7 linked regions of the Homo sapiens genome follow. The protein of the gene in region 1 purifies or fractionates together with the protein of each later gene. This does not show direct contact. Each region holds a gene or a part of one and is shown in the gene's direction. Other genes may lie near its edges. The genes, in order: SERINC5, TRIM25, MYCBP2, TRIP12, RIGI, WWP1 and TRIM40.

Region 1 (4,215 bases):
ATCATTGGCTTTGGGTATATTTCAGAGGTAGAACTGGATTTGAGCAAGGATTAGAAGTGGGATGTGGGAATGAGACAGGCTCGGTTTCTGGCCTGAGCCACTGGGTAGATGATGATCGCATTACTGAGGTGAAGTAGGAAATTGTTAGGAAGAGGACATTTGGTGAGGAAAACCCAAGTTTCTTGGCTTCGTTACATTAGAGATGCCTATTATAAATTTAATGGAAATGGCAAGTCACCAATTAGGTATTTAGGTCGGGAGAAGTTTGAGGTCGGAGAGAGACATTTTGGTGACTTTCTTTAACTGCGGACCATCCTGAACAATATGTAACCCATAAAAGAGCCTGGGCTTTGGACTCAGGCCTGGGTTTCAATTTGGAAATCTGGACAATGAGGACTGGTGTGACTGGATGAGTTACTTACCCTCTATGACCTCATTTTACCTCAACTATTGAATGGGTACTTCTTAGGGTTATTGGGAAAATTACATGTGATGATAAGTGTAAAGTCTGTAATATAGGATTTGGCAGAGTGTGAGGAACCCCCCAAATCTTATTAGTGGCCATTACCCATCTGCATCAGGATAATATCCAGATCAGCTTATTTTATTTTTGTATCTACTCTGATATTCACTTTGGTTTTGCTTAGGCTGTTGGCTAATGGATGCTAAGAAAGTAGAGATTACAGGGGAGTGGTCACTCAACACTTTATGGGTTCAAAGTTCTGTGCTAGGCCCCTAGAGACACGGTAATGAACACAGGGCTTCCTTGTTCTCCTTTAACTTAAGGGCTATGTGGAGGTGGGAGTGTTGGGGGAAGTTAGCTACAGAAAATGACAGTGCAGGCTGGGCATGGTGGCTCTTGCCTGTAATCCCAGCACTTTGGGAGGCCGAGGCAGGTGGATCGCTTGAGGCCAGGAGTTCGAGACCAGCCTGGGCAACATGGTGAAACCCTGTCTCTACTAAAACAAAAATTAGCCAGGCGTGATGGTGCACGACCTGTATTCCCAGCTACTTGGGAGGCTGAGGCACCAGAATCACTTGAACTTGGAAGGTGCAGGTTGCAGTGAGCTGATATTGAGCACTGCACCCTAGCCTGAGCAACAGAGTGAGACGCTGTCTCAAAAAAAAAAAAAAAAAAAAAAGGAAAAGAAAAGAAAATGACAGTGCTCACTGTCAGAGCGGAAGTGAGGTGTGTGCTTGGAAAATCTAGACAACCTTTCCAAGGCAGTTTGACAATAGGGATTGGGAGGGCTTGCTGCAGGCAAGTATAGGCATTTATGACAATAATAATGCTGAAATTAATAGGCTTCTTGCCTGAAAAGTTCACCCGAGGCAGATGCGCCAACATTCTAGTAGGCAAGACTCAGCTAATGTCTGGTTGGTGGGCAGCCAAGACTATTGCACCAGGAGGATCAAGCCTGTGGTTGCCATTCTGAGTAAAGGTTCACTCTGTCTTTTTTTTTTTTTTTTTGAGACAGCGTCTCATTCTGTCACCCAGGCTGGAGTGCAGTGGCGCAATCTTGGCTCCCTGCAACCTCCGCCTCCCGGGTCCAAGCGATTCTCCTGCCTCAGCCTCCTGAATAGCTGGGATTACAGGCACTTGCCACTACATCTGGCTAATTTTTGCATTTTCAGTAGAGATGGGGTTTTGTCATCTTGGCCAGGCTGGTCTCGAACTCCTGACCTCAGGTGACCCGCCCGCCTCTGCCTCCCAAAGTGCTGGGATTACAGGCATGAGCTACTGCGCCGGCCCTATTCACTCTATCTTTATAGCCAGTTTATGCAAGGCAGGAATGCCCAGGCCCAGGTATTTCCAGCCAGATCCTATTTCTAGATCACCAAGATTTTCCTCAATGAAAACCCATGTATGTATGTATGTATGTATGTATGTATGTATGTATGTATGTATGCATGTATGTATTTAAAGATGGGATCTAGCTCTTGCCCAGGCTGGATTGCAGTGGCTCAATCATAGCTCACTGCAGCCTCCAACTCCTGGGGTCAAGCAATCTTTCTGCTTCAGCCTCCCAAGTAGCTGGGACTACAGGTGCGTTCTACCATGCCTGGCCAGTTTTTAAAAATTTTTGTAGAGACTGGGTCTGGCTTTGCTGCCCAGGCTAGTAAAACTCATTTCTGATGTCCGTTATGTTAATTAACAAAGCCTTGAATGCCACCAGGAACTATCCATCATCAAAGATAAACAAAGCGGGACATTAGTTAAAGCAGTAAAAACACGTTTATTCAGTAACTATTGACTGTAGGGGAAAGAGCTGAGCTCCATTCGATTTTGTGCAGAGGTGACTAGGCCTTTTAAAGTGAGCATAAGGGAGTAAGGAGGGGAGTGAGCGGTGGCTCAAGAGTCAGGAAAGTGAAAAGTTACAAAGGGTTGGTCGCTGTAAATGCAATTAGGCCAGCTGTGTGGCCTTTGATTAAATGTTTGCTGGAATAGGGGTCTTATCAGGGCAACTGATGCCCCTATAATGCAGCTTAAAACACACACCCACATACACAGAGTCCATGAAGAAGACTTATTTAAAAAATAAATTACACACCACATACAATAATGATGATTCCAGGCCGGGCATGGTGGCTCACGCCTATAATCCCAGCACTTTGGGAGGCTCAGGTGGGCGGAGTTCGAGACCAGCCTGGCCAACATGGCGAAACCCTGTCTCTACTAAAAATATAAAAATTAACTGGGCGTGATGGCATATGCCTGTAATCCCAGCTACTCAGGAGGCTGAGGCAGGAGAGTCGCTTGAACCTGGGAGGCTGAAGTTGCTGTGAGCCAAGATCATGGCACTTCACTCCAGCTTGGGCAAGACAGCGAGACTCCGTTTCAAAAAATAATAATAATGATGATGTTTCCCCCAAAATGTCCTTCCTTCTTCACTGTAAAACCCAAATCTCTACTTTGAGGTCCCAGCTCAATTAATGTTTCCTCAGTAATGATCTTTCTCTTGTTTTGAGAGTCCTCACAGAATTTCTGCTTCGTGGACTTGATTGCACCACTTAGTACTGGGTCATCTGATGCATTGGAATTAAATCCTGGCTACTGCAAGGATGTTTCCTCTCTTCTTATAAGCAGAGCACTTATTGTGACCTAGCTGAACCCCCTGTTGAGCTCTTTTGGTTACAGAACTCTTGTTCCCTATTGCTCTTTGTTTATAGTGATTGGAAATGTTAGGTCCTCATTATATTACATGGTGCTTCCACTGGAAGGGATCCAATTACAAAAATTCATTATTTCCATGATGATACTTTTTTGAACAATGTGGGAAGTATTTGTGAAACAGAGGGAAATCACACATATCATTACCCAGAGAGAACCACATTTTGATGCTTTATAGTCAGTTACTTATATTTAATATTTATTATTTTATTTTTTTTTATTTTTGAGACAGAGTTTTCGCTCTTGTTGCCGAGGCTGGAGTGCAATGGCGTGATCTTGGCTCACTGCAACCTCCGCCTCCCAGGTTCAAGCAGTTCTCCTGCCTCAGTCTCCTGAGTAGCTGGGATTACAGGTGCCCGCCACCACGCCCAGCTAATTTTGTGTTTTTAGTAGAGATGGGGTTTCCCCATGTTGGCTAGGCTGGTCTTGAACTCCTGATCTCAGGTGATCTGCCCGCCTCAGCCTCCCAAAGTGCTGGTATTACAGGACTGAGCCACTGTGCCCGGCCGATATTTATAATTTTACTTTGCAAAGTTGGGATTTTGTTGGAAGTGCTGTATTTGATCCCACTCTTTTTGCATAATTATGAGGTGACTGATAAAGTTTTTTTTAACATGCACCCACCACTTATTGTAGCTGTTAATGTTTTCTGGGTTTACATTCATATGTAGATAGTCTTCTACCTTCAAACTTGATGGTTTCTTTTTTTTTTTGGAGACAGAGTCTCGCTGTGTTGCCCAGGCTGGAGTGCAGTGGTGCGATCTCGGCTCACTGCAAGCTCCGCCTCCCAGGTTCACACCATTCTCCCGCCTCAGCCTCCCGAGTAGCTGGGACTACAGGCACCCATCACCACGCCCGGCTAATTTTTTTGTATTTTTAGTAGAGACGGGGTTTCACCATGTTAGTCAGGATGGTCTCGATCTCCTGACCTCGTGATCCACCCGCCTTGGCCTCCCAAAGTGCTGGGATTACAGGCGTGAGCCACCGTACCCGGCCTGATGGTTTCTTCAGAGGTGTTAATGTTGAATGTGTGAAAGTCACTT
Region 2 (4,215 bases), on another chromosome or scaffold:
AAAAAATTCTTTTGTAAAGATGGGATCTCACTATGTTGCTCAGGCTGGTCTTGAACTCCTGGCCTCAATCCTTCTCCCATCTTAGCCTCCTGAGTAGCTGGAACTACAGGTGTGCTACCATGGGGCCTGGCTATAAAATCAGAATTTTTTTTTTTTTTTGAGTTGGAGTCTTGTTCTGTCGCCAGGCTGGAGTGCAGTGGTGCGGTCTCGGCTCACTGCAACCTCCACCTCCCGAGTTCAAGCGATTCTCCTGCCTCAACCTCCCGAGCAGCTGGGACTACAGGCCTGCGCCACCATGCCCAGCTAATTTTTGTATTTTTAGTAGAGACTGAGTTTCACCATGTTGGCCAGGCTGGTCTCGAATTCCTGCCCTTGTGATCCACCCGCCTCGGCCTCCCAAAGTGCTGGGATTACAAGCGTGAGCCACCACGCCCGGCCCATATATATATATTTTTTAATCTTTTCTTTTAGAGACAGGTTTTCACTCAGTCACCCAGGCTGGACTACAGTAGCATGATCATAGCTCACTATAACCTTAAACCCTGGACTCAGGTGATCCTCCTGCCTCAGCCTCCTGAGTAGCTAGGACTACAAGCACGCACCACCACACCCAGCTAATATTTTAAAACATTTTTTGTAGAGACGGGATCTCACTATGTTGTCCAGGCTGGTCTTGAACTCCCAACCTCAAGGGATCCTCCCACTTCAGCCTCCTGAAGTGCTGGGATTACAGGCGTGAGCCAGGAGCCTGGCCTAAACTCTGCTGTTTAATCCTAACAACAGGCCTTCCTCTGCCAACACCTACCCCCCTGTCCTGACTTGCTGAGTCCTATAACAGGTCTGCTTTTTGAGCCCTGCTACTGCTGCTCATCACTGTTGGCAGAGCCAGTCTCAGCTGGGCAATGCCCTTAGCCTCGGGGGCTGGGTTGCCTTGGCCACTGGTGGGGTCGGACTTGAGACTCTGGTGCCTCCCATGTGGAAGACCCAAGTCTCTAGTCTGTGAAGGGATCCTCAGGATTTCAAAAAGTCCTTTGCCTTTGATTAGGGGATTATTGCTGCTACCAAAGTTTTTGGGTCACTTTCCTTTGGTCTGGAGTCGTGTGGGCACCATTCATGATGAGGGTACTGCCGCATGTGTTTGATTAATGGTGTATCAAATCTTTCAAAATATAGGGCTCAGGGTGTAGTGCTATGAGCAGCTCTTGAAAGTGAAGCAGTTGGCAGCCTTGGGGTGTTCTGAGGTCTCTTCTTGCTCTGAGGCCAGCAAGGCCGGATGTATGTAGGCCTGGTCTTTGGCCCACACCTTATCTTGGCCACTGTTAGAGGCCAGGTCGAAGGGCAGTGTCACAGAGGTCAAGTTTGAAACATCATGAGCAGCTTGGGCTTTTCGGATTGAGTTAGTGTGGCCTTGGTCCCTGCCTCCAACCCCTACATGTGACTGTCACTGGGTTGTTCAAATCTAGATTCAAGATCAGGTTCCGCCCAGAATATCTTGGGTGGAGTTGAAGAGTCTGGGAAGTGGAAGAGAGAGCCAGAGTATGTTGAGCCTGCTAGTTACGGGAAGGAAATTTTTTTTTTCTAGAAATCTCCAGCATGCTCAGTTTGGGCATGTGTCTATGATTTTAATATCGGGATCTTAGCTGTGCCAGTTACTAGTAGTGTAGCTGGGGCAAGTCACTTAATTGTTCTGTGCCTCAGTGTCCTTGTCTGTAAAGGCTGGGTAATTCCTACCTCATAGTGTTGTTCTTAGCTTTAAGTAAGTTAATACAGGTAAAGCACTAGAACAGTGCCTGGCATACAGTAAGTGCATAATAAATACTGGCTGCTGCTGTTATGGTGGTGGTGATTTTCCTTCCCATTTCTGTGCAGTATTCATCTGAGCAGGGAGGTAGGAGACTCAGATATTGATTATGAAAATTAATTGAAATCAGATGAGGATATTAGCTTCCTTCATATACAGTTTGCCTTTGTTTCTGGAGGTGGCTAGGACTGAGCAGATTTGCACCTGGGCTTCAGCCCCTGTGAGCTACTTCATCTTTTTTTTTTTTTTTTTGAGACAGGGTCTCACTTTGTCACCCAGGCTGGAGTGCAGTGATGCCATCTCAGCTCACTGCAGGCTCAACCTCCCGGAATCAAGCGATCCTCCTGCCTCAGCCCCCTAAGTAGCTGGGACTACAGGTGTGCACCACCACACCTGGCTAATTTTTGTATTTTTAGTAGAGACAGGGTTTTGCCATGTTGCCCAAGCTGGTCTCGAACTCCTGAGAGCAAATGATCCACCTGCCTGGGCCTCCTAAAGTGCTAGGATTACAGGCATGAGCCACTGCGCCTGGCTGGCTGATTCATCTTATTCCCAGCCCTTGGTGGTCCCAGTCTGCAGTGAGCCTTGGACTCTGATTTCTGTCTCCCTGCCCTGTGAGGCTGACAAAGGCTCCCAGCCTTGTTCTGGGATTGGCAGATGCCTCTGGAGAGAACATCCTAGATATCAGGCTTATCTCTCTGGGCCCCCTTCCCCCTTCTCCTGGACCTTGACTTCTTAATCCTCTGCTTGATTGGCTCTCCAGCATCTTTTAGCAGATCTCCCCGCTGCCCCATTATTTGGACTGCTTTCCTGGCTGTTTGCAGTGGGAGGATTGGTCTGAGTGGCCCCACCTGCCATTACCGAAGCAGCTGTCCCAGCTCGTTCTGTTCCTGTGTGAGCTTGGCCACCTTTCTGTCCTCCTTGCTTGAGTTTCATTGGCTGTAAAATGGGTAATTAGAGAAAAACTCATAATAATATAAGCTGGCATTTAGTATGTTTTTCCTAAGATCCAGGCATTGGGCTGAGTACTTACATTGTTTCAATTAATCCTCCCAATAGCCCTGTGAGCTGGGGACAGTTGTATCTATTTTGTGTCCAAGAAAACTGAGGTGAAGGACACAGTTGCACAGCTGGGAGTTGGGACTGGAACCCTGGTCTGTACTGTCCTCTGAAAAGGATGAAGGGAAGTAGTAAGTATTAGAATGCTTCAAAAAGCTCCAAGCAGGCAAGACTCGGGTGACAGGACTTGGGGTGGCAAGACTTGGGTGGAGTGGAAGAGGAAGGAATCTATCCTGTGGGATAGTTCCAGGGATGGCTTCTGGTGGGGCTGGGCTGAAGAGGTGCATTCTCAACCTCATTTGTTTTCCCTGCAGGCCACCCTGAGGCACAAACTAACTGTCATGTACAGTCAGATCAACGGGGCGTCGAGAGCACTGGATGATGTGAGAAACAGGCAGCAGGATGTGCGGGTGAGTGGCAGGGCTCTCCAAGGCCAGCCCTGCCCTGTGGCTTCGCTCAGCTTCCACGCGGGATGGGCGTGGCTCTGACCATGACAAGGCTGGTGTTGGGTGCACTCACAGTGTCAGGATGAAACATCAACCTTGCAAAGCATGCAGACAGCTGTGTGTCTGAGAGAGATCCTTTGCAAACCCAAACCAAAAATTACCTATAAGCCCAACTGTGGGGGAAATCATTATAAATTAGGATTAAAAAGTAGTAATTCAGAAAAATGGTTATGATATAAAGTGGGAGAAAAAGAGGAAGCAAAAGTATATAGCTCATAGGGTTGCATCTATTTACAAAAAGGAAGTATATTAGTTTCATAGGGCTACTGTGACAAATTGCCAGAAACTTGGTGGCTTACAACAACAGAAATGTATTCTGGCAGAGTTCTGGAGGCCAGAAGTCCAAAATCAAGATGTTGGCGTGGCCACACTCCCGAAGTCTCTAGGGGAGAACCCTTCTTTGCTTCTTACAGTTTCTGGTGGCTCAGGCATTCCTTGGCTTTTGACTGCATCACTCTGATCTCTGCCTCTGTCTTCACATACCTGTCTCTTCTTCCCTTAGTGTCTTCCATCTCCAATAAGAACCCTTGTCATTGGATTTAGGGAGCACCTAGGTAATCTATGATGATCGAATCTCAAGATCTTTAATTGCATCTGCAAAGACCTCTTTCCTAAGTAAGATTACAGTCACAGGTTCTGGTATATGGACATGTCTTTTGGGGGCCCAGCATTCAACCCATTACAGAGAGCATGGAAAGAAACTGAAAGGGAATATTATAGAAGGATCATAGTGGAAGTGTTGGAGTGGTAAATTAGGAATGGTTTTGTTCCCCCTGTTTTTCAGATTTTCGATACGTTTAAATTGCTTTTAAATGGAAAGATCAGATTTTTACCCTTTTTCAGAGCTGC
Region 3 (4,184 bases), on another chromosome or scaffold:
AGCGAAAGTTTAATAAGCAAAAGAAGAAAGCTCTCTGCCAGCAGAGAGGGGGGCCCAAACAGGATGCTCCCGTGAGGCTGGGGCCCAGGGTTTTTATGGACTGGAAAGGGGAAGGAATGTGCTTAGTCTGTGGGCTGTCTTGGCCCGCAGCGTGACTCAGCTTGGCCCGGGACCCTGGCCCAGGAACCCACTGGAGCCCACTGTGCCTATGCCCACAAAAGGAGAGAGCCCCCTGACTATACAAAGGACAAAGGCATTTCTATCCCAGGTCTTGTCCTTTATCTGATTGAAGGTTTTTCTGTCTGTGCAGCCGTGGGCATGTCTTTAGGCACAATGCCCTGTGCTAGTTCCCTCATCGGTGCCTGCAGCTTGACTTTTTTTCCCCAACTGCTTTTTATGTTATATGGGGATGAGGCACTGACCTGTGGACCTGGGGCTCTCTGGGGACCCTTCCCTTGCTATCTACCTAAGGCAAACTAACTCCTTTCATTAACACGTCAGTATATAAATTTGGAGGAGCACAAAAACATCCAGACCATAGCATAATCCCTCTATCCATTTCTTTCTAAAATATTTATTGACTACCTTCTCGTGCCAGGATACTTAATCTTCACAGCACCCCATGAGTTAGGTATTGCTGTGTCTATTTTAAAGATGAGGTATCTAAGAATCAGAAAAAATAATTTTACTTCAGTTTCATATCTACAAAATGAGGATAATCGTTTCTGCCTCCTATGACTGTTAAATGGTTAAGTAGCTGATATACTAGAACAGTGCCTCAGTAGTAAGCACTCAGATGTTTGCAGGTGTGTTTTCACTATTTTTATTTCTCACCACCATGTTGGATTGTGAACACCTTGAAGATGGGAGCCATGCACTTTTCATCTTTAATCCCAAGTACCTAAGAATGCCCTTCATATATTAGGCATGCGGTAAATATTTGTTGAGTAAATGACTCATTTTTTCCTTGAAAAAACCCAAGGGCTGCAGTTTGTGTCACCACCATTGATATGTTGTGTATCTGAACTAGATCTGCCATTGAGTGTCCCCATCCTGCGCACTCTCCCCCACCCACTGGTGGGGTGGGCACCAATCTGCAGTGTGATTTGGAGCAGGAGCTACTGAACTACTTTCTAACAGGAATAATTAACTTTCTAGCAAACCTCTGGCATCCTCCCATGCTGACCCATCCTGAGGTCTGTGCCTGCATTTGTCTGAGGTGGCACTCATTGCCACTCTCATGCCTGTTAGCTCTAACCTGAAGTTGACTTCTCTGAGATTAGCTGTCTTCAGTTTGACACTCTAATGTCTTGGTCTTACTCTTGTACAGAACTTACTTTTTATTCCTCTAGATCAGGCCTCAGTTTGTGGTTGTTCAGTAATAGTAGTAATAGCCAACATTTATTGGGTATTATACTGTGCAGTCTAAGAGCTTTATAAATGCTAGCCTTTTATCCATCATGGTTTCCTTCTCTTATGTCAGAAATGTTTTTAAACCTAGAAAAGGTAAAGTAAATGAGACGTCATTCCTCATTGATCAGTGTAAGCTCATTCCATCCAATCTCGTGATATTTTTCTCTCAAGCACAATCAGAATTTAGATTTATTATTTTGAAAACTAGCTGTAGAAAACTAATGCAGAGTTCCTATTCCTTCATCTACTATTAAATAGGGACTCTGCTTTCAAGTATAAGCCTAGCGTGTTTTTCTGACAAAGTAAGCCTCCTGGTTTCTAAAGGAACTAAAAATCTTTTCTAAATGATATGAAACCCATGACGTGAAGCACATTAATATAATAATTTTCTTTTTTAAAATACTGTTTTTGGTACATTTGATAGGCCTACTTTGATTATTATCAACAAATTCATATCTTCCCCAAAGTGTTTTTTCCACATTGTATTTTATAACATTGTTCATGTTTTTAACCTGATAACTTTCATTTTCCTGCTAATATCCTTCAGGTACTTTTAAAAATTACAGGAATCATTGGCCTTCCCATTTTACCAGTGTGGGCTTTTTCATCAGTAAAAATAAAAGGGAAAACATGGCTTCTTTAAACTTAAATGTTTTTACTTATAGAAAAACATTCTACACAAAAATCTCCCTGTTTTCTATTCAGAAAAATAATGTTCTGCCAGACTAAATTGAGGGGTTTTGTGACCTTTTTTGTTCATTACTCTGTTTTAAAATGATATATCTGATGCATTTATTAATAGAAAAAGATCTGTAGCTCGAAGTGATCCTCTCTAGGCAGGATATAGTGAGTAAGGGACCCCATCACTTCTTCCATTGTACATATCTGTGTTGAATTTTTTATAGTGAACATTTTTTACTTTTGTGATCAGAAGAAAAATTTCTAAATGTTATATTTGTATAACCATAGTCATGTTATTTCTTTGAATAACCTATCAGTGATTTATATTTCTGTGAGGTTTATATGTGTGTATTCTTAAAACATTATTTTCCTTTGCCTCCTTCAAATTTATACAGGTCCCAAAGGCAAGCAGTTAGAAGGAACTGAATGTCCACTCCATGTTGTTCATCCACCCACTGGGGAAGAGTTTGCTCTGGGATGTGGAGTGTGCAGAAATGCCCACACTTTTTAGAACACGCAGATCCTTTGTCTACAGAGAGAAAAATTGCCTTCATCCCCCAAGAGGATGCGGTGAAGTTTAAACTCTGCTCAGGATAAGGACGGGACCATTTTTACATCCATGAAAATGAACCATTCACAGTGCAAGAAGGATACCAAATACCATGTACATAATTCTTGCTATGAAAAGTTTCCCCATTATTTTGGTTTATCTTCTTTTGAACAAATGACATCAAACTTGTGAGGTGTTTGCATGTGGCCATTACCGTCATTGGCCTGTGAAGCATTGGACATTTATAGATAATTGATATAAAAGAATCGCCATGCCCATGGACTAAGAACGATGCTGGCTTTCAAGCAAAAAAGAAAAATAATCATTGTTTATTGTATACTGCCTTTTTGTAATCCTGTACAATTGCATCACGGGTGGGGATAAAAAGAGGAATATTCTGGTTTATTTCCTAGACTGTTATTTAAAAAAAAAAAAAACATTGTGTTAGGACAGCATATAAATGTAATAAGTATCACACTGTATATAAACATATCAATGTTTGTCCTGTATAAGAATTACTAAATTACAAATGCAATTTCATTTAAACTTCTAGGTTAAGTTTGAGCCTGAAATTTTAATGAAGTGCAATACTGAGTGTGCCTCATTATCTTGCAGCTGTAAACATATTGGAATGTACATGTCAATAAAACCACTGTACATTTTTATACAGTGATAAAGTCTACCACTGTGGGAGGTATTGTTTAAAAAACAAAATTTGAACACCTTTAAGGTCTAAAAGTCCAGTTTTCCTCAGAAAGAAATTTACTAACACAACACATTCATAATTTTCAAAACTGTTAGAGAAAATAAGAATAGTAATGAAGTGCAATGTTGGAATCTTAAACCCTAAGCAGAAGATCATAAATATATATATATATATTCGTAGGTAAATATATTCATACCAAAGACAGAAGAAAGCATTTAGGAAATTAACTTCTATTTTAACTAGCAGCATTTTTAACTTTATTTATTTATTTATGAGACAGGGTCTTACACTGTCACCCAGGCTGGAGTACAGCGGCGTGATCTCAGCTCACTGCAGCCTCCAACTGGGCTCAAGCGATCCTCCAGCCTCAGCCCCCTGAGTAGTTGGGACTACAGGCATGCACCAGCACCATGCCCAGCTAATTTTGTAATTTTTGTAGAGATGGGGTTTTGCCATGTTGCCGAGGCTGGTCTCAAACTCCTAGACTCAAGCAATCCCCACTGCTTTGGCCTCCCAAAGTGCTAGGATTACAGGCGTGAGCCATTGCACCCAGCCCCTTTTTGAAGTTCATATAAAGTAATAAAATCACTAATTTTTTATTCATTTTCTATAGACAACGGTGTGTTTAGGTACATCTTTTTGACACTCGAGTCATGAAATTGCCAAATTATTGATTGTTGACTCATCATACATCAGATTAGCAAAACTTTTGTTGTTGTTGTTGTATTTGAGACAGTCTCACTCTGCTGCCCACACTGGAGTGCAGTGGCACCATCTTGGCTCACTGCAACCTCCACCTCCCAGGTTCAAGCGATTCTCCTGCCTCAGCCTCCC
Region 4 (4,215 bases), on another chromosome or scaffold:
AAAGTGCGTATGTTAATGCTTATTTCTTCTAAGCTTTGACAAAGCAGTTGTGCTTGTGAATAGGGCATCAATATTCTGGCTTCCTCTGGTTCCGAACAATTAAGTGTTGTTTTTCTTGTAATCTTAATTCTTGTTTTGTGATTACGAGTGTTAGTGTCAGTAATCTTTGGGCTAAAGAACACCCTTATCTTTTAATCAGATATTTTAGTATCCAAAGTCACATCTGCTTTTGTTTTGTTCTTTTATTTCGTTTTACAGATTTGAACCTTCTGAAAACCTATGTTTAATACTGGACTTAGTAGGAACATATTCATACTTTATTTTTTGAAAGCATTATATATGACAGTTGTAATTATGACAGGCTGATATTAACTGTTTTCTTATCTAACCTCTTAGAAGCTGCAGTTCATCATCTGCTGTGATAGTTCCACAACCAGAGGATCCAGACAGAGCCAATACTTCAGAAAGACAAAAAACGGGGCAGGTGCCTAAGAAAGACAATTCTCGAGGAGTGAAGCGCAGTGCTAGTCCAGACTACAACAGGACCAATTCTCCTAGCTCTGCAAAAAAACCAAAAGCACTTCAGCATACTGAATCTCCCTCAGAAACAAATAAGCCACATAGTAAGTCAAAGAAGAGACATTTAGACCAGGAGCAACAACTGAAATCTGCACAATCACCATCAACAAGCAAGGCTCATACCAGGAAGAGTGGGGCCACTGGCGGTTCACGGAGTCAGAAAAGAAAAAGGACAGAGAGTTCTTGTGTAAAGAGTGGCTCCGGGTCTGAATCAACTGGTGCAGAAGAGAGATCTGCGAAACCTACCAAGCTGGCTTCAAAATCAGCCACCTCAGCCAAAGCTGGGTGTAGCACCATCACTGATTCTTCTTCTGCTGCCTCTACTTCCTCCTCGTCTTCTGCTGTAGCCTCGGCCTCCTCCACTGTACCACCAGGTGCCAGAGTGAAACAAGGAAAAGATCAGAACAAGGCCAGGCGTTCCCGTTCAGCGTCCAGTCCCAGCCCCAGAAGAAGTAGCAGGGAAAAGGAACAGAGTAAAACTGGTGGCTCTTCAAAATTTGATTGGGCTGCTCGTTTCAGCCCTAAAGTTAGCCTTCCTAAAACAAAACTGTCTCTTCCAGGGTCTTCTAAGTCAGAGACATCAAAACCTGGACCTTCTGGATTACAGGCCAAATTAGCAAGTAAGTTTACAAAAAGGTATTTTTCTTTAATTAAAGAAAGTTTCTCTTGGTTTGTCAAAAGCAATTATGCTTTAAAGTTAAGGGTTTTTTCCCCCCAGTCTTAGATAATCTTAGATGTATTACTGTCTGTGTAATTAAGTACATAACAGCATGTAGTAAGTGCTACTACATTTAGTTTTGTTGAGACAGGTAAGGAATACTACCTTCCTATTATTACGAAACCATCACATTTTAGTGTCTGTGTCTTTATTGGTCCTCGCGGCATCTCCTACTTCACTGATTTCCTAATATCAGGATGGGACATAAAGTTGGATTTTCTTCTATACCACATACAAAATTATCATTTAGTTAGGAGTTCTTTTTAGTTATGAGTTGCCATGATCAGAGATCAAATATATATATGTTTTTTTAGATGGAGTCTCACTCTGTCGCCTAGGCTGGAGTGCAGTGGCGCAGTCTCGGCTCACTGCAACCTCCGCCTCCTGGGCTTAAGCAATCCTCTTGCCTTGGCCTCCAGAGTAACTGGGATTACAAGTGTGCACACCATGCCTGGGTAATTTTTGTGTTTTTAGTAGAGATGGGGTTTCACTGTGTTGGCCACGTTGGTCTCAAACTTCTGACCTCAAGTGATCTGCTCACCTCGGCCTCCCAAAGTGTGGGGATTACAGGTGTGAGCTACCATGCCTGGCCAAATATATTTTTTTATATGAGATATTCTTGATGTGTAGATACAGTGAATTAAGTTATTACTATAAATATACCTCAATGTAAATTAAACTTTTTCATATGTAATATCTCACAGTCTTTTAAGGAGTTTTGTCTAAAGATGAATACTACTTATGTTTCACTACTCTTATATACACTACTCTGTGTCCTAAGTGAGTAAGAATATTGCTCTCTAAAAGTTTACAGTGGAGTAGAAAGAATTTGTGTTTTGAGAATACATTCAAGCAAAGAAACAGAAAGTAGATGGAAGAAACATAGCGTTATGTGCATTCCTTCATGAGTCAGTTTTGGAGATATCCAGGAACTCTTCTCCCTCTCTCTTTACCAAAAGACTTCTTCAGGGAACCAGCTGCTCATCTGGGGAATGCTAGTGTCTTTCTTTTCTTTCCTCCCTTCTTTTTTTTTTTTGAGACAGAGTCTCACTCTGTTGCCCAGGATGGAGTAGTGGTGTGAGTGGTACGATCTTGGCTCACTGCAACCTCCACCTCCTGGGTTCAAGCAATTCTCCTGTCTCAGCCTCTCCTGAGTAGCTGAGATTACAAGTGTGCGCCATCACACCCAGCTAATTTTTGTATTTTTAGTAGAGAGGGAGTTTCACCATGTTGGTCAGGCTGGTCTTGAACTGGGACAAGTGATCCACCTGTCCCAGCCTCCCAAAGTGTTGGGATTATAAGTGTGAGCCACTGTGCCCAGGCTTCTTTCCTTATTTCTATTTCAGAAACCTATAAAGGACAAATAGGATAATAAAGCACTTATCTCTACAATTTTTAAAAGCATTTTAATTTTATAATACCTAATTAGGAAGCTTGCTTTTAAGCATCTTTTCTTCTCTGATGGATTTTAGATCTACATTTGGGTAGGGCTATAATGTTTTCTTGGTTTAAAAAGATTGTATATAGTGTCTACTAGCATTCTTGTCAAAGTATAGCTCATATTGAATCAGCCTAACTTAAAATTGAATCAGAACTATTAGCTCTGTTTAATTTAACACTGCAGTCTAAAACTACTTTTGGTTGATTCACATATTACCTGAAATGACAATACTATTAATAGTAGGTACTATATAAAAAATTTTATGTTTAACCTGTATGATAGGTTATTGTGAAGTAACATATTTTACTTTTAGATTGAACTTTGTTCTGTTTTGGTATTTTAAATATGCAGAACATCTGTATAAAATGTTTTAAGTTTAAAGGATTAAGATAGGCTAGATCAGTATCTTGAAGTGAGAAGGAAAAAAAGGTCCAAGTTAAAAGGACAACCAACTATTTGTCCTTCCAATGCTTTATTGATAATTGGAGTTACATATGTCAGCTTTTATGCTGCCTTTCCTCCCTGTGTTTTGTGTCTGTCAGTCCTGCTATGTAATATTCACAGCCAGTGAGCCAGGTTGAGTTTACAGCAAGCTGCTTAGGATTCACTTCCCCTTCTGCCTTCCAGTCTGCCTCACTTGAAGAACTCATCTCTTATGTGTAGGAGGGTTCTAGGGCCAGGCAATAGCAGATTGTACTTGAGTGTCATGGCCTTGGTCCTTTGTAGAGATCAGCTTTCTTTTCTTTATATAGTCTGTTAACTTGATTTTTAAAAGAAAACCCAACTCTACCAGTGGCTAATCAGTGGGATTTTCTCCTTGGTGTTTCAATCAGGAAACACCAAGAGTTTTGGCAGTGTCATTTTGCTGCTGGTTTGATAAAACCAATCCAGATAATTCCATTAAGCCTGCTCAGCACATAGTCACAAACTAATTTAGTATTTTAAAACTCATTTCACCATTATTTCATTCACTTGCACAGTATCTGTGTTCTGTTGTCACTATTAAATCACTTTTCCGTTTTCACTGCCACTATCCCAGTTCTGATCTCTCATCGTAGCCTAAGCTGTTGAAACAAGAGAATGGAACCAGCGTTTGTGTAGCATAAAATAAGTACCAGGTATTTTACATATGCAGTTACATATTCTTTTAAAAAAAATGGTGCTTTAGGATACACTTTTTTTTTTTTTTTTCTGAGACAGAGTCTTGCTGTATTACCCAGGCTGGAGTGTGTGTAGTGGCGCAGTTGGCTCACCGCAACCTCTACCTCCCAGGTTCGGGCAATTCTCGTGCCTCAGCCTCCCAAGTAGCTGGGATTACAGGCGCATGCCACCATGCTTGGCTAATTTTTGTATTTAAGAGACAGGGTTTCGCCATATTGACCAGGCTGGTCTCGAACTCCCGACTTCAGGTGATCTGCCCGCCTCAGCCTTCCAAAGTGCTGGGATTACAGGCCTGAGCCACCATGCCCAGCCTAGG
Region 5 (4,215 bases), on another chromosome or scaffold:
ATCCAGATGTTATCCCTTCATGGATTCAAGTCTTTTTTGTTAGATGTACCAGAAAACTTAAACTCCCCTGGTTTGCCCTTCTATGGGGAGTAAATGACTTCAGGAATAAATTTGATGTTTACGTGGCACATTTAACTTCTTTAGTGATTTTATAATTTATTTGATATTATTCTTTTACGTACTCTTTTCTCTCTTAGTGACTTAAAATAATATATAGTACTATAAATTACAACTAGCTTGGATTTATTGATCTCTTACTATGTGTCAGGCTCTGTGCTAAGGACTTGCCTACAGCTATTCTTCTTTTGGACTCAGGGAGAATTTAATCAGTTGATGTTCTGATCTAGCATTTCATCTTTGTGGTTCCTTATCCACATCGTGGTTAGTAATATGGAATTTCTGTCATTTCCCAGGTATAGAGTTACAGGCATTTCTGGAGCAACAGCTGAGAATGTCCCAGTGGAACAGATTGTTGAGAACAATGACATCATCATTTTAACTCCACAGATTCTTGTGAACAACCTTAAAAAGGGAACGATTCCATCACTATCCATCTTTACTTTGATGATATTTGATGAATGCCACAACACTAGTAAACAACACCCGTACAATATGATCATGTTTAATTATCTAGATCAGAAACTTGGAGGATCTTCAGGCCCACTGCCCCAGGTATCTCCAAAGTCAGACGAATGCTTCAGAAGAGCTATAATCTTCCTAACTCCTATTTTCTTACTCTTATGGCCACACTGAAGATGTCCTTCTCAGGTCCCAAGTCCATATTGTACAACTCATTATGAATTTTGTTTCCTTTATTCATTTGTTCACTTAGTAAATATGCATTATGTGCCTCCATGTGCCATACACTGTGTGTTAGTAAAAACAAAAAAACGCCCTACCCCAGCAGGAAAGAGTTATATGAGGGGTTGTGGAAACATTGTACCATTTCTCAGACATCTAATGATTTTGAATGCTCCTTACAGGTCATTGGGCTGACTGCCTCGGTTGGTGTTGGGGATGCCAAAAACACAGATGAAGCCTTGGATTATATCTGCAAGCTGTGTGCTTCTCTTGATGCGTCAGTGATAGCAACAGTCAAACACAATCTGGAGGAACTGGAGCAAGTTGTTTATAAGCCCCAGAAGTGTAAGTTGGATCCAATAACAAGCCTTTGAGATTCTGTTACTCTCTACTACCTCTAGTTCAGAGCCATCTAGACGAATACTGAACTTTGACCCTCTCTCTGTTTAGTAGAAAATATTTAACCTTGAACTTGAGTAACAGTCACATTTTTTAGCCTCTCTAACTGAGCTCTCATCCCAAGCAATGGATGAACCTCAGAAGTGGCCTGTAGAGAGCAAACATTCTTCCTCTTTGCTTCCAAAAACCTCTTATAAATGTACTAGCAATGCAAAAGAGGTGATGAGAGAATTTAGGCATCAGATAGCCAAGAGCTGGGCTCACTCAGCCTTTTCCCATGCTCTGTGCCTGTGTGGTCATCACTGTTTGAATATGTATTTGATCATTTTAGTTGAAATGGAATGATCTGAATTCATGATGTCACTCCTCCAAAGATCAGATATGATTTTTTAATATGACTAACAGTTGTTTATTGATGTTATTATTACACTAACCCTGAAAGGAAGAGAGGGATACAGAAAATATATATGACTTCACCCTTGCTCTCTGAGTAGTATGTGACTGTATTTCTGAGGTAGAACAAATAGACATGTAATAGGGAGTGGTGTAGATAAGTTCCTTTTTGAAGGCTGCTTGTAAGTAAGGATTTTGATGTACCTGATCCCAACTTTTCAGTGTCACATATGAATTTCTTTACAATCCGGTTCCTCCTGCCCTCTGAGCTTCATCACCTCCAAACATTCATAAACCCAACCATGTTGCATTCCTCTGGGCTCCTCAATCATGCCGTGTGCTTTCTCTCTCCCACCTTTTGTCTGTGCTTCCTTTGTACATCACTGCTCTTTTTTTTTTTTCTTTTTCTTTGCCAAGTTGTGATGGAATATACATGACTACTCTTGCTTTCTTCTTTCTTCTTCCTGTATTTATTCTACAACTCTGACTTCCCTGGAAGAATTAGGTGTTACTTTCCCTGTGTTTTGTGACACTTTGCGTGTACTACTTCTTTTTTTTTTTTTTTTTTTTGAGACAGAGTCTCGTGCTGTTGCCCAGGCTGGAGTGCAGTGGTGCGATCTCGGCTCACTGCAAACCTCCACCTCCTGGGTTCAAGTGATTCTCCTGCCTCAGTCTCCTGAGTAGCTGGAATTACAAGCGTGTGCCATCACGCCTGGCTAATTTTTTGTATTTTTAGTACAGACAGGGTTTCACCATGTTGGCCAGGCTGGTCTTGAATTCCTGACCTCAAGTGATCCACCCTCCTCGGCCTCCCAAAGTGTTAGGATTACAGGTGTGAGCCACCACACCCGGCTACACTTTACATGTACTTCTGTTAGAGAACTGCTACGGTTAGTTAGCCATGTATATTTCTCTCCCTTAAGATCACAGCCCTGTATGGAGCATGAAGTGTGTTCTTTCAACTGTCTATAATCAAAGCATGGCACATTGCAGGCAATTAATAATTAGGCTGAAATAATATATTGATAAATGGTAGGATCAGTGTGAATACTGCTGGGAGCTGTGTGGGGAGGGAGAATATCAAAGCACAGAGACAGGGTTAGATTGTGGCACTTGCAGAGACATGAGAGATGCCCGCCTCATCAGAGAGGAGGTAACAGGACAGCCACAGTAAGAAGCTGGTTAGGCCGGGTGCGGTGGATCACGCTTGTAATCCCAGCACTTTGGGAGGCCAAGGCGGGTGGGTCACCAGCTCAGGAGTTCGAGACCAGCCTGGCCAATATGGTGAAGCCCCGTCTCTACTAAAAATACAAAAATTAGCTGGGCATGGTGGTGTGCGCCTGTTGTCCCAGCTACTTGGGAGGCTGAGGCAGAAGAATCACTTGAACCTGGGAGACGGAGGTTGCAGTGAGCCGAGATCGCGCCACTGTACTCCAGCCTGGGTGACACAGTGAGACTTGGTCTCAATCAAAAAAAAAAAAAAAAAAAAAAAGAAGCTAGTTAGACCTACACCATGAAAGACAGGTGTTAGAATCAGTACAAGAAGCAACAGGGAGCCATTGCATTTTGAGCATTTGTTGTATCATCTGGACCACCTGCCAGTTAGCCTGGAACCTTAGGTTTTTCAGAGGAAGTATCAAAGGCAGAGAAAGGTTTTAGAGATACCTACTTTGAACTACAATCTGTCCTTCCTGAAAATATACTCACTCTTTTTTTCTTTTTCTTTTTTTTTTGACGTCTCTAGTTTTCAGGAAAGTGGAATCACGGATTAGCGACAAATTTAAATACATCATAGCTCAGCTGATGAGGGACACAGAGAGTCTGGCAAAGAGAATCTGCAAAGACCTCGGTGAGATAAATCTCATATTTTGTGTTCTCTCTACTGGGGAATAGCCATTTATTGTTCACTATCGTCTTTTTGTGTTCTCCTTAGTTCAGACAATGTCAAGACCATATCCAGAGGTTGTCTTCCTTGATTATAGGTTATTTAGGAGCCTTATATGTCCTCCTCTATTCTTTCTTTCTTCCTTTTTTTCCTTTTAAATCCAAAGTAAGTTCATCCAGACACATGCACCTGAAAAATAACCATACTTAAGTCAGTTCATTGCTTTCTCTACCTTCTAAATCAGCTTTCCCTCCTGACTTTCCTGTTCACCTGAATGAAACCACCATTCCTCTACTGGCTCAGATTTATATCTAGGGACAATCACCCAGCACATTTCCCAGCATTAAAGGAGTGCGACTAGAGATGGGCCAGGGGAAGACAGTGAAGGGCCTGGATTTGAATTTTATCCTAAAAACAATGGGGAAAAAAGTGAAGATTAAAACTGATTAGTGACGTAATAAAGATACCAGTGAATGAGAAGGACCAAAGAGAGGCAGTAGAGATGGATTGGAGAAGGAAGGAGACACATGTGAGATGCTTCCAACTGTGAGTGTTATGATTGAATGGCTAAACGGATTTGGGTGGGGATGAGAAAGGGGCAGGAGGGGCTGATTTCCCCCCAGGCATCTGGCTTAGGCACCTCTATGAATGCCAGTGGGTGGTCCTGGTACCAGGACTAGAAGCAGCCTTGGCAGGTACAAGGTTTTGAGTTTTGAGTTTTAGGGATGTTAAATGTG
Region 6 (4,215 bases), on another chromosome or scaffold:
CTAGAAGTAGTTCTGCTTTTGAAGCAGCCAAATCAAGACAGCCAGATGGGTGTATGGATCCTGTACGGCAGCAGTCTGGGAATGCCAACACAGAAACCTTGCCATCAGGGTATGTTAAGCTTTTTAATGTCTGACTTGCATTTAAGTAGCAACTCTGTTAACATACGATTATTGAATGTGTGCATAAAATGTTTTCATTGTTCAGAACTTTGAAATCTAAGTTGGGATCTGAATCATACTATTTATTTACTTGCTACAAAACAAGTACTTTTTGAAACTAAGAACAATTGCTCATCTGGTTGACATATATGTAGTACGAAGGGAAAAGAAAAAACCTGATGTTAATTAGCAAGACCCTCTTAATTTGATTCTTGGTTTATTTCTACTTTTCGTAAGAGTGACCATGATACTCCATATAATATCCTCAGTTCTCTGGCATCCTTGGTGATCTGTTTTCCAGACCTCATACTGGAGAGCAAATAGCTCTTCTTTTCCTCAGCTAATATTGAGTGCTGGGGAGTCACAAACCTTGCTGATTGGCTCTATTAAAAATGCAGTTTTTCATTGCTGGTTAGTAATTCTTAATCTCTTTTAAGTTTCTCATTATAATTACTCAACTTCCCATGATTTTCTTTAAAGAGTATTCTATATGTGTATTCCATTCGGTAATTTCTTTGACCTTTGGCACTGATAATACTAATATTAATTAATGATTAATTGTCTCTGCCTTCAAGAAGCTTATTTAGTGATTCACAGTTGTAAACGTGTACAGTATATACAGTACAGTCAGAAAGTATATATGGACACGTGCTTTCCAACACAGTTTACAGTGATCAGAATGTCAACTGTTGTAGCTATTGAAACTGCACTTCTAGATGTCTCTACACTATTGTCTTCATTTTGTTACCTCAGTCACTATGTTAGTGTACGTTGGTTTTTTTTTTGGAATTGTTTTTTTTTTTCTCAGTGCCCTTTACTGGCTCGTCTGATGTTGTCCACTGCTTAATTACGGTTTCAGCCTTTGGTCTTCCTTTGTGTGCTTACCCCAGTAGATCTAGCACTCTCCATTATTATTATTTTGGAGCAGAGTTTCATTCTTGTTGGCCAGGCTAGAGTGCAATGGCACGATCTTGGCTCACTGCAACTTCCGCCTCCCAGGTTCAAGTGAGTCTGCTGCCTTAGCCTCCCAAGTGGCTGGGATTAGAGGCACCCGCCACTATGCCCAGCTAATTTTTGTATTTTTAGTAGAGACGGGGTTTTTCCATGTTGGTCAGGCTGGTCTCGAACTCCTGACCTCATGATCCACCCGCCTTGCTTCCCAAAGTGCTGGGATTACAGGTGTGAGCCACCATGCCTGGCCAGCTCTCCATCATTTTAACTATTAAATCTATATGTTCAGGCCAGACTTTTCTTTGAGCTTATTTTCAACTACTTTTCCCTCTTCTGTTTCCTGGAAATGTTTCAGACCCTATATTAGCTTTCCTTTCCCTCTCAAAAATCTCTTGTCCTGTGTCCCATGTTTGGTAAATTAGTCAATTATCCTAGTCTCTCATGTGCCAGTCACTGTGGCAAAGACATATAAGAAGCTGTTCTTACTGTCAAGAACCTCATCGTCTAAGTGGTGGGGGAGGGGAAGAGAAGTAGACAATCAGCCAGCATACAGTACAATTAAAGCTATGCCAGAGGTAAGTTTAGGATGCCATGACAAGGAATACATGCAGAGAAGGAATGGGAGGAGTTACCTGCGCCGTTGACGTCAAAGAATACTTTCGAAAGCTATGACACGTCAGTGGATTCTGAAAGAAGAGGAGGAGTTAGCAAATAGTGGAGGCACGAGTGGTGAAAATTTCATTTTCAGTAGAGCCGACTGCACATTCAGATTCCTAGCACCCATGAAAATGAGTATGCTGAACCCAGGAATTATTATTTTGTTATAGTTTGAGTTCAGCATTTGAGGCAGCAAGATATATAATGCTGAAGAGAAAACAGCCCTGTGAAGAATTTTGTGTGATTTCGAAGGGTTTGGAAGTTTTTTCTGAAAACCACGAATAAGCATTAAAGAATGTAAAGCAGGGGAGTGGCATAATCCTCTTTGCTTTTATTAAGATCATTTTTGCAGTGGTATAGACAGCTGAGGAGTTAAGGAGTTGGGATAGCAGCCAGGCTGTTTTATAAATGAGGGAAGCCGGCATTCCAGTTCAAAACAGTAAGTACATAAACCTAATTCTGTTGAGACCAGATAAATGCTTCAGCAGACTTGTTGTCACCACTTATGATCTTTGTATTAGAATTTTGCAGTAATCTATATTAGTGTTTTTCAAATTGTAGAGTGCAACCCGTTAATAGGTTATGACCAGCATTTGAACACATAATGAAATAAAGAAATATAGGCGAGAATAGGAAATATTGGAAGATGTTAAATGTAGTAAGAATAAGCATTGTTTCCTGAAAGTTTGTTTTTCTGTGTGTGTGTGTGTGTGTGTATGTGTGTGTATGTAAGTAAAATCAGTAGATAAATAGCAATCTGGTATACACAGAGATATTTATATAAAACACACTTCTTACTGTGTAAACTGTGGTCAAAAAAAGTTTAAAAGCCACTAATCCAGGGGAGAAATTAAGAGAGCCTGAAGTGAGGTAAATGCTAATATTTTAGGTTGACATAAGATGGGTCTTGATAAGTTGTGGGGAGATAGAATAGAAAAAGAGTGGAACCAAGGTGGATTCTTCTGGCATACACAGCACCAGGCTGTGTAACCCTTTGAGTCAGCAGTTTTCAACTCCACATCATCTTCCCTCTTTGCTTAAAAATCTTACCTTAGTTCCTGTGTTTTCTTTTGTTTGGTAACTTACTGAGTCATTTAGCTAACAACAGGATAGGACTATGGGTGCCTCAATCCTGTTGATTGTAATGTACAGCCAAGTTGAGAACTGCTACTTCAAGTTCTTTTGTTAACCCTTTACTCTCCACATTTTTTAATTCACTTTATATAGAGATATGTAGATGAAATAAAAAAATTCTGTGTATCAAAATCTAAAGTATGCATCAGTGAAAAATTGGACAGTGTATTAATATTGAGTACTTTTCAGAGAGATTAAAAATACATTCTGAATCCCCCCCCCATCCCCCCACCCCCGCCCCTAAATAGCGATTAGGCAACTGGGTCATGGCATATTTGACTGAAATAATGATAGAATGTTGGACTTAGGGTAGGAGAGTGATGAGAAAGTGTTCTGTATTTTGTAGGGCATCCAGTTGATATATGTACCTCATGCCGTATACCAAGGAGGCAGTTATATGTACAGTTCCAGAACTGAAGAAGAATATTCTAGCCTGGAGATAACATTTGAGTGTTATGCCAAGCACGATTTTGCCTAAAGAACTTTGCATGTGCTCTTTTATGTATTCTCAAATATACTCAGGTTTTGTTAAAATGTTACCTCATTCCAGAGGTGTTTTTTGAGTCTCCTGTCCAAATCAAGCCAGTTTCCCCACATTTCCGTATCCTGCTTTATTTTCCCCAACATTTTATGTTGAAAATTTACAAATGTACAGAAAATTATAATTTTGCAGTGAAAACCCATACACTTCCCACTAGATTTTACAATTGACCCTTTATTGTGCTTGCCTTATCTCATCTCTTCATCTCTTCATCCATCTGATTTTTAGTGCATTTCAATGAGTTGCAGACATCAATATGTTTTGCCCCTCAACACTTCAGCTTGCAAATCATTAACTGGAATTCAATATGTTTTAAAATTTTTTTAGATAAAGATGACAAAGAAAGAAAAACACGAGTCTTGAATGTACCATTATGATGAATTTTGGCAAATGCGTATGTCTGTGTAACTCAAATCTTTATCGAGATACAGAACATTAATATCACCCTAGAAAGTTGTGATTCTGAGGCAATCAATATTCTAATTTTTTCTACTATAGATTAATTTTCCCTGCTGTAGAACTTACTATAGATGGAGTATGAACTCTTTTGAGTAGGCTTCTTCTAATCAGCATGATGTAACCTTTATTATTTTTCTAGCACTTAAATTATGTGACACACAGTGTTATTATCTGTTGTCTCTCCACTAGACTGAAGGGAGATTTTATTTTGTCTATTTCTATATTCTTCGTGCTCAAAACTATGCCTACCGTATAGCAGGCACTCAATAAATATTTGTTAAATAAGTGAATTTGTGCTACATTAAATGATTTAG
Region 7 (4,215 bases), on another chromosome or scaffold:
TTTGGTTCTAACATCATTCCCTCCAGGTGCAATGTCCACAGGAGAGTGGGGAGGGATTCCTCACCTGCCGATGAAGCAGCATAAGATGGAGAAATTTATTTCCTCACTAAATGATTTTTTCAGGTCTGTCCTTTGTGTTAGATGTCATGCTAGGCATTGTAGAAAGTACAAAGATGATTCATAATTCTTGTTTCAAATCTGTCTTTAAATAATGACAAGAAAGCTAAAACAAATAAATAACGATGACACTTGTTCATTAAGTAAAAACTTAGTAAGTTCCTGCTGTGTGTGAGAAACTGCAGCATGTGCTAGGAATCAATGAAGACAGATGCCATTCCTTCTGCCAGGAGTTTGCAGTGTAGTAAGGGAGACACAAATAAGTAATCAAAGAACTGTAACTTTTTTTTCTTTTTTTTTTTTTTTTTTTTTTGAGATGGAGTCTCATTCTGTCACCCAAGCTGGAGAGCAGTGGCATGATCTCGGCTCACTGCAACCTCCGTCTCCCAGGTTCAAGCAATTCTTTGCCTCAGCCTCCCGAGTAGCTGGGATTACAGGCACCCACCACCAGGCCTAGCTAATTTTTGTATTTTTAGTAGAAACAGGGTTTCACCATCTTGGCCAGGCTGGTCTTGAACTCCTGACCTCATGATCCATCTGCGCTGGCCTCCCAAAAGAACTGTAACTTTTTATTAGTTAGGAAGAAAATAAACAAGGGTCTGGGATGAACAGTAATGGGTGGCCCATGTCCATTTGGTCAGTGAGGGCCTCATAGAGGAAGTGACCTTGAAGCTGAGGGCTGGCAGAAGAGAAATCAACCTGCAAAGACAGGGGGTAGGGAGTGCATACAGATGCCCACACCTGAGAAGTCTTGTTATATTTGAAGAATTTATCATTAGAGTTTGAATCGACAGGACTTACTGAGAGATTAGAAGTGGGTTCTTTGTAAGAAAAAAACAACCCCATCAAAAAGTGGGCAAAGGATATGAACAGACGCTTCTCAAAAGAAGACATTTATGCAACCAACAGACATATGAAAAAATGCTCATCATCACTGGTCTTTAGAGAAATGCAAATCAAAACCACAATGAGATACCATCTCTGCCAGTTAGAATGGCAATCATTAAAAAGTCAGTAAACAACAGATTCTGGAGACGAAGTGGAGAAATAGGAACGCTTTTACACTGTTGGTGGGAGTGTAAATTAGTTCAACCATTGTGGAAGACAGTGTGGTGATTCCTCAAGGATCTAAAACCAGAAATACCATTTGACCCAGCAATCCCATTACTGGGTATATACCCAAAGGATTATAAATCATTCTACTATAAAGACACATGCACACGTATGTTTATTGTGGCATGGTTCACAATAGCAAAGACTTGGAACCAACCCAAATGCCCATCAACGATAGACTGGATAAAGAAAATATGGCACATATACACCATGGAATACTATGCAGCCATAAAAACAGATGAGTTCACGTCCTTTACAGGGACGTGGATGAAGATGGAAACCATCATTCTCAGCAAACTAACACAAGATCAGAAAACCAAACACCACATGTTCTCACTCGTAAGTGAGAGTTGAACAATGAGAACACGTGGACACAGGGAGGGGAATATCACACACCAGGGCCTGTGAGGGGATGGGGGGTAGGGGAGGGATAGCATTAGGAGAAATACCTAACGTGGATGACGGTTTGATGGGTGCAGCAAACCACCATGGCACGTGTATACCTATGTAACAAACCTGCATGTTCTGTCCATGTGCCCCAGAACTTAAAGTATATATATTTTAAAAAGTGGGTTGAAGGAAGGAGGAAGGTCAAAGATGACTTCATGAGTTTCTGGTTTGAGAAACTGAATAGATGATGTGAAAGATAATAACTTGGTAGAACAGGTTTGAATGCAACACCAAGAGTTTCATTTAAGACAAGTTGAGTCCAAGTTGAGACACATCAAAATAGGATCTTACATACGCAGCTGGATCACAAATTTAGATCTCCAGAGTCTTATTCCTAGAACCTAGAACAAAGATCCATCCAGGCAAAGACAATATTTAAATCCAAGAAAAGCGGGCACGGTGGCTCACACCTGTAGTCCCAGCACTTTGGGAGGCCAAAGTGGGAGGATCGCTTGAGCCCAGGAGTTCAAGACCAGCTTAGGCAACACAGTGAGATACTATCTCTAGAACAACAACAGCAACAACAAAGTGAAATTAACAGGATTTAAAAAAAAGAACGTGACAATTTGGGGCTGGGTGCAGTGGCTCACGCCTGTGGTCCCAGCTACTTGGAAGGTTGAGGTGGGAGGATTGCTTGAGCCCAAGAGAGTGAGGCTGGAGTGAGCTGTGATTGTGCCACTGCACTGCAGCCAGGAAGACAGAGCAAGACCCTGTCTCAAACAAAGAAACAAACAACCAAGAAACCAAGGAAACTGATGTAATTGCCTCAAAAGAGGCTAGACAGAAAAAGAAGTTTTGGGGTAAGGTTCTGGGAAAGGCCGTCATTTAGATGTAGGCAGAGGAGGACCCAGCAAAGGAGACAGGATGAGTTGCCAGAAAGGCAGGAGAAAAACAAGGGGAATGGTGCCCCAGCTGCTAAGAGAGAAGGGTATTTTAAGAGATTATAATAGATTGCATTGAACAATGCTAACACTTCAGTAAGATGGTGGCAGAGGCATGAGAGCTGAGTTGGGAGGAGGCACACTTCTTCCATAGTAATAACAGGGAACAAGAGAAGGTGTCTGCAAGCCTACATAGTTTTGCAGTTTTGGAAATCCAGGTTTTGTTCTGGTTTTTATTTTCTCATAATATTTGAGGAAGGAACATCAGCAGTATGGGTGGGATCAGGATGGATGTGAAAGGTTTGAAAAGAAACAAGATGGTGTGATGCAGTGTGGGAGAGCGCTTACAAGAGAAACTATGTAGGGTTGGCAGACAGTATGTAGCACCAATTTGAGGTCTGAAATGTTTAACATGTTTCAGGAGGCTGCCTGAGGACAGACAGCAAACAAGAAGGTGATGGTACATTTTACCATGGATAAGGAGTTGTCTGAAAAGTAACACAGAGAGGGAGGGTAAGGGAGTTGAGTATATTTCTGAAGAAGTGATTATAATGGTGGACCTTATGTGTACTCATGGATATTGACAGCGTAATTTTGAAATTAAGGAGGGTTTTTTTTTACTGATTTTTTCACCATATCTCTATTTATTTGAATTAAACTTTGTAGTTAAGTATTGTAAATTTTGTTCTTTTAAAAGAATCATATAATCCCTGACTGTACTCTAAAAAGACCGAAAAATTTATAAAATCTACAAATTCTTATTTGTATACCTGTTTCCTCACTGACCAGTCAATGTCAGTGTCAATCACTTTAATGTATTTTGCTGGTTTAGTAAGTGTGTGACAGTGATGTACGTTGTTTTACTTTGCTTGATTATGAATGCTAGTAGTGGTGAGGCTTTTATCCATGAAGACTCGCTGTCTGCATTTTCCCCTAGAATCAGGGCATAAATTCTACATGATTGCATCAAAATAGTTTATCTTTTGGATAATGAGCTCCATTAGTTGTGTTTGTTTAACCTACATTTTTTTATTCTGTTATTTCTTCTTAATTATATTTTTGGGCAACTTTTTAGAAATTTGCATTTAAATTGGCTCTATTCTTTTTTATAATATAATCTCCATGTCTTAAATACACAGAAATTTGTTTAATATGAGTGTGCTGCTCTGTTTTATTTTTAAAGGTTTATTAATTCCTGGCTTACTTGGAATTTCATATAGTATGTTGTGTGAAGGATGACTCCACGTTAATTTTCCTTTATTCTGGTATCCAGTTGTTCCCAAAATATTTATATAACAGTGAGTCCTTTCCACATTTACGTGTTGTTTCTCGCTTGACATCAATTAAGTTCTCATGATGGGCTGTTTTTTTTTTACTCTAGTCCATTGATTATTCTTTCTGTTATATAGTTTTGACAACATGTTACTTTATGGTTTATTTTTAAATCTAGCAGCATTTTTGCCATTTAATAATTTTATTACCTGATATTTTTGCTGTCTTTTAAGATGAGTGCTTTTTTACAATGTTTCTAAATTTCATAGATCATTCCATAAGATTTTAATGGTTATTGCATTAAATTTGTTGATTACTAAGAATCATGACTTTTGGGGGTTTAGTTAGTCTTCTCAACCAGTACCAAGATACATCACTAACG

The links.
Region 2: the proteins of SERINC5 (region 1) and TRIM25 purify together in Homo sapiens (affinity purification with mass spectrometry, with the first as the bait; one large-scale study listed by BioGRID). This does not show direct contact.
Region 3: the proteins of SERINC5 (region 1) and MYCBP2 purify together in Homo sapiens (affinity purification with mass spectrometry, with the first as the bait; one large-scale study listed by BioGRID). This does not show direct contact.
Region 4: the proteins of SERINC5 (region 1) and TRIP12 purify together in Homo sapiens (affinity purification with mass spectrometry, with the first as the bait; one large-scale study listed by BioGRID). This does not show direct contact.
Region 5: the proteins of SERINC5 (region 1) and RIGI purify together in Homo sapiens (affinity purification with western blotting, with the first as the bait; one study listed by BioGRID). This does not show direct contact.
Region 6: the proteins of SERINC5 (region 1) and WWP1 purify together in Homo sapiens (affinity purification with mass spectrometry, with the first as the bait; one large-scale study listed by BioGRID). This does not show direct contact.
Region 7: the proteins of SERINC5 (region 1) and TRIM40 purify together in Homo sapiens (affinity purification with western blotting, with the first as the bait; one study listed by BioGRID). This does not show direct contact.

Annotation. Positions count from the first base shown.
Region 1 is NC_000005.10:80,248,986-80,253,200, reverse strand, and holds part of SERINC5 (serine incorporator 5), read left to right. Parts: intron 1-4,215.
Region 2 is NC_000017.11:56,907,523-56,911,737, reverse strand, and holds part of TRIM25 (E3 ubiquitin/ISG15 ligase TRIM25), read left to right. Parts: intron 1-3,174; coding exon 3,175-3,270; intron 3,271-4,215.
Region 3 is NC_000013.11:77,043,799-77,047,982, reverse strand, and holds the end of MYCBP2 (E3 ubiquitin-protein ligase MYCBP2), read left to right. Parts: intron 1-2,489; coding exon 2,490-2,605; 3' UTR 2,606-3,326; downstream 3,327-4,184. UniProt on the Homo sapiens protein: Atypical E3 ubiquitin-protein ligase which specifically mediates ubiquitination of threonine and serine residues on target proteins, instead of ubiquitinating lysine residues.
Region 4 is NC_000002.12:229,855,756-229,859,970, reverse strand, and holds part of TRIP12 (E3 ubiquitin-protein ligase TRIP12), read left to right. Parts: intron 1-396; coding exon 397-1,199; intron 1,200-4,215. UniProt on the Homo sapiens protein: E3 ubiquitin-protein ligase involved in ubiquitin fusion degradation (UFD) pathway and regulation of DNA repair.
Region 5 is NC_000009.12:32,484,402-32,488,616, reverse strand, and holds part of RIGI (antiviral innate immune response receptor RIG-I), read left to right. Parts: intron 1-413; coding exon 414-672; intron 673-983; coding exon 984-1,146; intron 1,147-3,337; coding exon 3,338-3,442; intron 3,443-3,473; exon of another isoform or gene 3,474-4,215.
Region 6 is NC_000008.11:86,411,766-86,415,980, forward strand, and holds part of WWP1 (NEDD4-like E3 ubiquitin-protein ligase WWP1), read left to right. Parts: coding exon 1-109; intron 110-4,215. UniProt on the Homo sapiens protein: E3 ubiquitin-protein ligase which accepts ubiquitin from an E2 ubiquitin-conjugating enzyme in the form of a thioester and then directly transfers the ubiquitin to targeted substrates.
Region 7 is NC_000006.12:30,138,932-30,143,146, forward strand, and holds part of TRIM40 (E3 ubiquitin ligase TRIM40), read left to right. Parts: intron 1-4,215. UniProt on the Homo sapiens protein: E3 ubiquitin-protein ligase that plays a role in the limitation of the innate immune response. Mediates inhibition of the RLR signaling pathway by ubiquitinating RIGI and IFIH1 receptors, leading to their proteasomal degradation.